Homo sapiens: one gene and its partner. The protein of the gene in region 2 purifies or fractionates together with the protein of the main gene of each other region. This does not show direct contact. Each region holds a gene or a part of one and is shown on either strand. Other genes may lie near its edges.

Region 1 (3,500 bases), on a different chromosome or scaffold from region 2:
GACAGAAACTTACAGAGAGAAAGTGGCTCCCATCTGCAGGTTCCAGAAGCCAGGCTCTTGTCTGCAGGCGAGAATGCTGTGTGGTGTGGCCAGAAACAAGTGTGAGCAGAGCCTGCTCGGCTCTGAGACCAAGCTTATCACCCCTTCCCTGGGCCTGCAGTCCTGGTCTGCAACGACCCCCTGGCCCTGAGGACTGGACAGGGATGGGGCTCTGCATGGGAGGTGTGAGCGGGGGACCCAAGGTGGAGCTGAGAGGCCACCTGGCAGACCCCTCCCAGGCGGGGCCAGGTGTGTGGGCTAGTGGAACATACAGGTCCTTTGCTGTCCACCATGCTGGGAGCGTGGAGGAAGAGAGCAGGCGCTGGACAGAAACACACAACCTGGGGGCTCCTGGATGAGCTCCCCAAGAACTGGAGACTCAGATAACAGGGCAGGGAGAAAGGCCACAGCTGGGGAGCCAGGAAGGGCAGCCCCTGCTGCCGCCCAAGGAGTTGGGTTTAAAGCTGAGTGCAGTGGGACCCTTTGGGGGGCTTCAAGCCGGAGGGGCATGATTGCCACGTTTTTGAAAAGATGCCTTTGGCCGCTGTTTGGGGGATGGCAGCTGGCACCAGTGCAGCTGGAGCGGGGCCTGCTCTGGAGTCTCTGGAGGGAAGCAGAGGCGACCGTGACAGTGACGGATGTCAGGGTAGTGGAGTTGCTGTCAGCTGATTCTGCCACAGCAGTTCAAGCTGGAGCAAGTGCCTGGAAGGAATCAGCACTGTCCTCCTGTCCCTAGGGTCTCGGGGACATAGAACACCTCTCACTGCTCACTGGAGGACTGTGGGACAAGGCAGGTTGCCCCCAGGGTCTCCTGCCCTCCCCTGTGGACTTGGGCCTCCCTGGTGTGCTGCAGTGGAGGTGGGGAAGGTGAAGGCCAAGGGCTTGCAGAGAGCATGGAGCCCGCGGTGAGACAGGGACACGAGGGCAACAAGGACTTTGGGCCTTGCTGTGGGCCTGGCTGGGTCTTAAAGGGGACCAGTGAGGCGGTGCCACAGTTGGGGCAGAGGGTTCCAGTGACGGAGCAGCTTGCAGGGGTTCGGGGAGTGGAAGCCCCGCCAGGGCTCAGGAGAGATGTTGGGGGCAGGGTCTGAGGGCTGGGGAGATGCAGCAGAGAGCTTGGGGGCAGATTTGCCCAGACCAGGGTCTAGACAGACCCTTTAACAGGTAGGCTGGTGGGACACTGATGAGACTGGGGCCTGTGGGGAGAGGAGGAACAGCTGGAGGCTGGGCTCCTGTTCCAGGCTGGCGGTGGCAACCGCATTGCAGGCTGCCTTAGGCATCAAAGGAGGACGGCAGCACTGAGTGAGGCAGGGGCCAGAGGGTCCCAGAGGGACTGCAGAGACCCGCTTCCGGCCTCCAGTTCCGCTGAGCCAGGCTTCCTCCCACCTGCAGCTGGTTCCTCCTCACCCAGGGTCTCTGCAAACCAGGCCCCAACAGGGAAAGCCCCCTGTGTCCTGGTGATCCATCCACAGAGCCCTTCGCACACAGTCTTGCCTCCAGGCCTCAGCGCCCGTGCTGGCCCCCACTTAGGGAGGGAGGGCTACTCCCCTGCCGGCCTGTCACAGAGAAAGCCGGGTGAGCTCCGCAGCGCTGGAGAGGCATGGGGCAGAGAGGGCCTAGTACCCCAGGGAGCACTTGAGTTCATTGTCACCAGCGTGTATTTCTTTGAATTATTTAAAAAACAAACACCGGCAAGGCTATAGCAGCTGAAGTCAGTTTGTCTCTGCTCAGTGTTTAAGGATCAGAGATTTCCTTCCCTTAGGGAGAGGAGGGCAGGTACAGATGGGGGTACGTGCGTGTGCACGTGTGCTCCAGATCTTGTTACAAAATTAATTCAGTCTCACGATTCCTTGGGCCCAGGGGTGACTGATTTTGATGGATCCCAGGGCTGCCCAAGGGCCTCTGTAATGCGATAACCACCTGACATGGTGGGGTCAGGTCCTGGACAGAGCCAGGCGCGCAGTCCTGACTTCATCACACTGCCATCTCATGTGGGAAAATGACGCCATCCATCCCACTAACTCTCCCAGGAAGCGAATTGTAGCGCGGTTGTGTCATCAAGGGGCCCATCAGTGCCGTGGAGGGGGCGCCGGTGTGGGCGGGGTGGGTGCATGTGGGGCCCTGCGGTGGGAACGCTGAAGGACACCTGAACCCAAGCCTGGCGCCTGGTGGCCTTTCTGAAAACGCAGTGGTCTGTGCAGGTCCAGGGCCCCCTCTTGGACCCGCGGGCTCCCTGTGCACGGAGCGCAGACTCACGGGGCCCTTCTGCTTCTAGGAGGGCGTGTGAAGACCTGGAAGCGCCGGTGGTTCATCCTGACCGATAACTGCCTCTATTACTTTGAATACACAACAGTAAGTAAGGGCCAGGCCTCCTTGCCGCCTCCCAGCAGTCCCGGAGCTGCCCTGGGGCCGAGGGACCCTCAGGCTGGTGACCCACAGTGAGCCCCGCCGTGTACTTTCCTCTTGTAGGATAAGGAGCCCAGGGGAATCATCCCGTTGGAAAACCTCAGCATCAGGGAGGTGGAGGACCCCCGGAAACCCGTAAGCTCTTCCTCCTGAACCTTCTCTCCTGCCAGCCACCTGGGAGCCATCCTCACTGCCTGCAGGGAACCTGCCCCAAGCCCCCCTGACCGCCTCCCCTCTCTCTTTCTCCACCAGAACTGTTTTGAGCTCTACAATCCCAGCCACAAAGGGCAGGTCATCAAGGCCTGTAAGACTGAGGCCGACGGCCGCGTGGTAGAGGGGAACCATGTGGTGTACCGGATCTCAGCCCCGAGCCCGGAGGAGAAGGAGGAGTGGATGAAATCCATCAAGTGAGTGGGGCCTCGGGGGCGGGGCCAGGCCCGTCTTCTCGTGCCGGTTGGAGGGCGGGGGATGGTCTGGAACATGGATGCTTCCGTGTGCAAGAGTGGACCTTCTGTCTCCAGAAACCCCAGAGGGCCGGGCTGCCAAAGCCGACGTTCAGATCTGAGCCTGCGGTCCTGTCTGAGGGGCCTCTGGGGCTGGTGGGAAAGGGGAGGTCTGTGTGTCACCCACGACCTAACCTGTGTGTTTTCCTTTTTTCACCAGAGCCAGTATCAGCAGAGATCCCTTCTATGACATGTTGGCAACGAGGAAACGAAGGATTGCCAATAAAAAATAGCTTTCCTGGCTAAAAGACCCAGGTAAAAGACCCAACCCCAGCAGAAAGACACCGCGGGCGGCCCCTCCGCGGAAGGCGTGGCAGGGAGGCAGTCGCCCTGCGGTGCAAGCTGCTGCTCCAGAGCATACCGTGGCCCAGGTGGTATCCCCAAGGCCTCGTGCCGTGGCTGGGGTCCTGGGAGGTGGTCGCCCTGCAGTGCAAGCTGCTGCTCCAGAGCGTACCGTGGCCCAGACTGATCCTCGAGGCCTCCTGCCGTGGCTGGGGTCATGGTCGGCTGCGCATGTCCAGAAGCATTTCCTTCCTGCGACCATCCCGGCGC
Region 2 (5,618 bases):
GAGGTAGGAGAATAGCTTGAACCCGGGAGGCGGAGGTTGCAGCGAGCCAAGATCCCGCCACTGTGCTCCAGCCTGGGTCAGAGCAAGACTCCATCTCAAAAAAAAAAAAAAAAAAAAAAAAAAAAGAATAAAAAGAACCCGAGTCTGCTGTCTCTAAAATTTATGCTCTTTTAGCTGCATCATTAATCATCCTCTTAATTCATTCTCTGACCCCATCTAGGTAATGAACCTACACTTAGAAAAAAATCAAGTTGTCTTGAGCTGTGCCATTTCATAACCCTCTTCGTAAGTCCCATATAGCTCATCTTACTCCACAAATACAGAAACACATGGGGCTTTCCCTCTAGTTTTTTTTTTTTTTTTTTTTCAGACGGAGTCTCGATCTGTCGTCCAGGCTGGAGTGTAGTGGTGCGATCTTGGCTCACTGCAACCTCTGCTTCCCAGGTTCAAGCCATTCTCCTGCCTCAGCCTCCCAAGTAGCTGGGACTATAGGCGCTTGCCACCTCGCCCCCCTAATTTTTGTACTTTTAGTAGAGACGTGGTTTCACCATACTGGCCAGGCTGGTCCCGAACTCCCGACCTTGTGATCTGCCTGCCTTGGCCTCCCAAAGTGCTGGGATTATAGGTGTAAGCCACTGCACCTGGCCTTCCTCCAGTTTTTTACAAAGCATCTAAACAAGCATTGTCTAATAGGAATATAATGTGAGTCACATATGTAATTTTAAATTTTCTATTCATTTTGCTTTTTTTTTTGAGGAAGAGTCTCGCTCTGTTGCCCAGGCTGGAGTACAGTGGGATGATCTTGGCTCACTGCAACCCCCGCCTACCAGATTCAAGCAATTCTCTGCCTCAGTCTCCCAAGTAGCTGGGATTACAGGCGCCCGCCACCACGCCCAGCTAATTTTTGTATTTCTAGTAGAAACAGTTTCACTATCTTGGCTAGGCTGGTCTTGAACTCCTGACCTCGTGATCCATCCGCCTTGGCCTCCCAAAGTGCTGGGATTACATGCATCAGCCACGGCGCCTGGCCTAATTTTGCTTTAAAAAATAAAATAAAAACAGGTGAAATTAGTTTTTAAATATTTTATTTAACCCAATATATCAAAAATGTCATTTCACCATGTAATCAATTTTTTTTTTTAAGACAGAGTTTCGCTCTCGTTGCCCAGGCTGGAGTGCAATGGCGTGAACTCGGCTCACCACAACCTCCACCTCCCGGGTTCAAGCGATTCTCCCTCCTCAGCCTCCTGGGATTACAGCCTAGCTGGGATTACAGGCATGTGCCACCATGCCCGGCTAATTTTGTATTTTTAGTAGAGACAGGGTTTCTCCATTTTGGTCAGGCTGGTCTCGAACTCCCGACCTCTGGTGATCTGCCTGTCATGGCCTCCCAAAAGTGCTGGGATTATAGGCGTAAGCCACCGCTCCCAGCCGTAATCAGTATTTTTTTTTTTTTTTTTTTGATACGGAGTCTGTCGCCCAGGCTGGAATGCAGTGGCGCAATCTCGGTCACTGCAAGCTCCGCCTCCCGGGTTCACGCCATTCTCCTGCCTCAGTCTCCTGAGTAGCTGGGACTACAGGCGCCCGCCACTATGCCTGGCTAATTTTTTGTATTTTTAGTAGAGACACGGTTTCACCGTGTTAGTCAGGATGGTCTCGATTTCCTGACCTTGTGATCCGCCCGCCTCGGCCTCCCAAAGTGCTGTGATTACAGGTGTGAGCCACCACGCCCGGCCCGTAATCAGTATTTGTAAATGATTAATTTTTCTGTACTAAGTCTTTGAAATCCAGTGTGTATTCTGTGTTCACAGCATATCTCAATGCAGATTTAATAATATATAATAGCTACATATGACTAGTGATTACAGTATAGGACAGCACGGGTCTAGATTCATTAGCCTCCTCTCCAAGAGCACATTCAGGAACCTTCTGCCTCTGGCCCCAGAATACACCCAATTCCAAGCAGGCAATTGCTCCTTCTTGCTTTGTCCCCTTTGGGTGGGAAGGGGACTCCTATAGCGATAGGGAGTGTCTTTTATTCAGGAAAAAGAAAGGGAGCTGTGGGTCTAACTCCGTTTTTGAAGTTTGTCCAAGCTGCAGAAATCTTCCTGGTTACTGGACAAAGCAACTAAGAATTCCTATATTTTAACCGTAACGTTGAATCAAACTGGTCAGAATGAAATGAATTGTCTCAATGTTAAAGCCAAAACTCAAAATTGAGGAGCCTTGCAATACCAAATTCACTGACTACTTTATTGTCACTTGTAAATCATAGTACAGGCAGGTCGCAAAGTTTACCAGGCAGTATTCAAGTACATAACATTCTAGTTGTGTTTTTCTCCAGTTTCTGGGGTTACTGAAGAATTAGCCCTGGCATAGCTTATTACAAACTAACCATAATCGCAAACTTAAAAGTTCTAATATCAAGCGTGGGCAACATACTAAGGCCTCTACAAAAAATTTAAAAATTAGCCGGGAGTGGTGCTGTGTGCCTGTAGTCCCAGCTACTCCGGAGGGTGAGGTTGGGAGGATAGCTTGAGCCAGGAAGGTAGGGGCTGTAGTGAGCTATGAGCGCACCAGTGCACTCCAGCCTGGGCGAGAGCAAGACCCTGTATCAAAAAGTTCTAATATCTAAAAGGATTGTAGTTTATAGTATGTTATTCTCACTGTAAACCAAAAGGTTATTTTTTTCTTTTGTCCACTACTAGATACATCTTTCTTAGCCTCACTTCACTTGTACAAGCCACCTGGGAGAAGTGGCCCTCAGGAAGATCCTAAAACCAATACACAAATACAACTTTTTCATTTCATTAATACATCAAGTTCATATAAGAGTCAAACAGGTAAAAGCAGCATCCCAAACTGTTTTCTCCTCGTACATGTCAGTTCCACGATCCTCAGTCTCATAAAGTCAGGGACTAGAGACCAATGTAATTATCAATACGTACCTGCCTTTGAGTGAACCTTCAATGCCAACTAGGAAGGGCGCTTCCAAAACGACGTTATTTGTAACTCCTAGGAAGACAAACACGGGTCAGAACCCATACTCTGCGGGCCTTGAAATGGAAAATCTCTCCTCTAGACAGACTCATCCTGGCCGTAAATATCAGGAGACTCCCCGATTCCCTGCCCCATCCCCAGGCCAAGGAGTTATTTGCTTCCAACTTTTCATCCCGTTTTCTTCCCCAGGTGGTTCTCCGCCACCCGGTGGAGAAAGCGGGAACACCCTCTCGGGCTAGCCTCTGCCTTTCCCGAACGCTTCACTGCACTCACTGGAGAAGACCACGGCCCCGAGGGACCGCGACAGGTCCCAGGCGAGGTGCACCGAGTCGGCGAGCACTGCGTGACACTGTGCGCACTGGAACACAGCGCACCTCTCAGGCTGCAGCCAAGACGGCAGCTGCGGGCCGGCGGCTGGCTCCTCAGCCCCCAGCCCTGCGGGGCCGAGCGGCGAGGACCCCTTCACCACCTGCGTATCCCACTCCATGGAGGTCGTAAAAGAAGCTTGGTCAATCGCCCTCTCAGTGCCACCACAAAAGTCCCCCCGGGGCGGCGTTGCACAACGTGAGCGATGCCGCAGCGGCTGAGCCGCCATCTTCCCGCAGCCGGCGCCTTCCTTTCGAATACACGCCAGGCCCCGCCCCAAGCACAGCTCCTGCGTCCTCATTGGACATCATGGGCAATCCAAGCACTGGAGTCCGAGTCCGCGCACTCGTTACCTGAACAGGCGTTACAGGCCCTTTGGCGCCTGCGTATTCGTGAAGTGTGAAAAAAGCGCGCCTCTGTTGGGACGGGAAATCAGCCTTTCTATTGGTCAGGGTTAGAAACCCCGCCTTTGAGGCATTTTCAACCAATGGAAGCGCGGCATTCTTCATTTAAACTGTCTATAAATTTCTGCCTAGTCAAAGTTAAGAGTGGCGCCAGGGATTTGAACCGCGCTGACGAAGTTTGGTGATCCATCTTCCGAGTATCGCCGGGATTTCGAATCGCGATGATCATCCCCTCTCTAGAGGAGCTGGACTCCCTCAAGTACAGTGACCTGCAGAACTTAGCCAAGAGTCTGGGTCTCCGGGCCAACCTGAGGGTACGGCGCTGGCGGTGCGGGTCCCTGGGCGGGCGCGGCGGGAATAGCGGCCTCGGGGAGATGCGGTGCGAAGGGACCGAGAGGGAAGCCCGGGACTGAGGCAGCTCTCCCTGCCCCTCGGGCAGTAGATGTGGTTCACGGTAGTCCCAGTTAGAACTCTGATAAACGGAAGAGGAACTGTAGTTTTCACCTCATTTTGAAGCTGGCTTGTCTGGGTGCTCACATGATAAGCTCTATTCCGAGGGATGGTTTATTGTTTTTTGTTTTGTTTTGTTTTGAAATTACTGTATACCTCTCAGGGCGTCGATTACGAAACTCAGGCCCAGAAAGCACAAGGGGTGTCGTTAATCGTTAGACAATTAAGTAAATAATTGGCTCAGCTTCTGGAAAACCCCAAACAGACTCCAGTGATTTGTAATATTGCCGATAATCTCTTGATACTTTATTGATGGACCTGTCAGAAAAAAAAAATCGACTTTTAGGGGAGCACCTCCTTGGGTAAATTTTTATTGATGACTGTTGGGTTGATGGTCTCTATCAAAACCAGTAAGGTCTTTGACTCCGAGGCTACAAGATGTTTGGAGAGTTGGCCCGGCGCTGTGGCTCACGCCTGTAATCCCAGCACTTTGGGAGGTCGAGGCAGGCGGATCACCTGAGGTCAGGAGTTCGAGACCAGCCTGGCCCTTAAAAAATTAGCCGGGCGTGGTGGCACACGCCTGTGATCCAAGCTTTTTGCCTGTGATCCCAGCTACTTGGGAGGCTGAGGCAGAAGAATCGCTTGAACCTGGGAAGCCGAGGTGGCAGTGAGCCAAGATCGCACCACTGCACTCCAACTTCGGTGACAGAGAGAGACTCAGTCTCAAACAAAACAAAAACAAACAAAAAACCCAAGATGTTAGAAGAAGATTTGGGGATTTAATGTAGGATAGCGGTTTTATATATTTTGTTAATAGTTGAGACTTCCCACATAATACTGCTATATACTCTGGAGGTTTCTCCTGCAGGCTGTGATACTGACAGTGAGTAAATGCTTAAATCAATCGTCACAATTTTTTTTTTATTTGTTTGTTTGTTTGTTTTTTCTTTGAGACGGAGTCTTGCTCTGTCGCCCAGGCTGGAGTGCAGTGGCGCCATCTCGGCTCACCGCAACCTCCGCCTCCTGGGTTCAAGCGATTCTCCTGCCTCAGCCTCCTGAGTAGCTGGGATTACAGGCGCGTGTCACCACGCCTGGCTAATTTTTGTATTTTTAGTAGAGATGGGGTTTCACCATGTTGGTCAGGCTGGTCTCGAACTCCTGACTTCCTGATCCGCCCGCCTCAGCCCCCAAAGTACTGGGATTACAGGCGTGAGCCACCCCACCCGACCTAAATTGTTTAAACAAAATAATCAGGGCCTAAGTGCCTGTTGGGGCTGAATGACCAAAGGGTTTTCCTTGGGGATATTTCTGGGCTGTAGTGGTTAGTGGCTCCTCTATACTTCGTAAACAAAGCCTTAATATCTCAGCCTAAATTCCTTAGGCTTTTTTGCTGCCTAG

The links. The genes of interacting proteins can lie anywhere in the genome.
Region 1: the proteins of OIP5 (region 2) and CYTH3 purify together in Homo sapiens (affinity purification with mass spectrometry; 4 studies listed by BioGRID and IntAct, with this or other methods). This does not show direct contact.

The regions. Positions count from the first base shown.
Region 1 is NC_000007.14:6,164,625-6,168,124, reverse strand, and holds part of CYTH3 (cytohesin-3), read left to right. Parts: intron 1-2,314; coding exon 2,315-2,391; intron 2,392-2,508; coding exon 2,509-2,580; intron 2,581-2,697; coding exon 2,698-2,852; intron 2,853-3,108; coding exon 3,109-3,181; 3' UTR 3,182-3,500. UniProt on the Homo sapiens protein: Promotes guanine-nucleotide exchange on ARF1 and ARF6. Promotes the activation of ARF factors through replacement of GDP with GTP. Plays a role in the epithelial polarization.
Region 2 is NC_000015.10:41,328,967-41,334,584, forward strand, and holds the start of OIP5 (protein Mis18-beta), read right to left. Parts: upstream 3,626-5,618; 5' UTR 3,596-3,625; coding exon 3,274-3,595; intron 3,016-3,273; coding exon 2,949-3,015; intron 1-2,948. Other genes in the region: NUSAP1 (nucleolar and spindle-associated protein 1), read left to right, coding at 3,992-4,084. UniProt on the Homo sapiens protein: Required for recruitment of CENPA to centromeres and normal chromosome segregation during mitosis.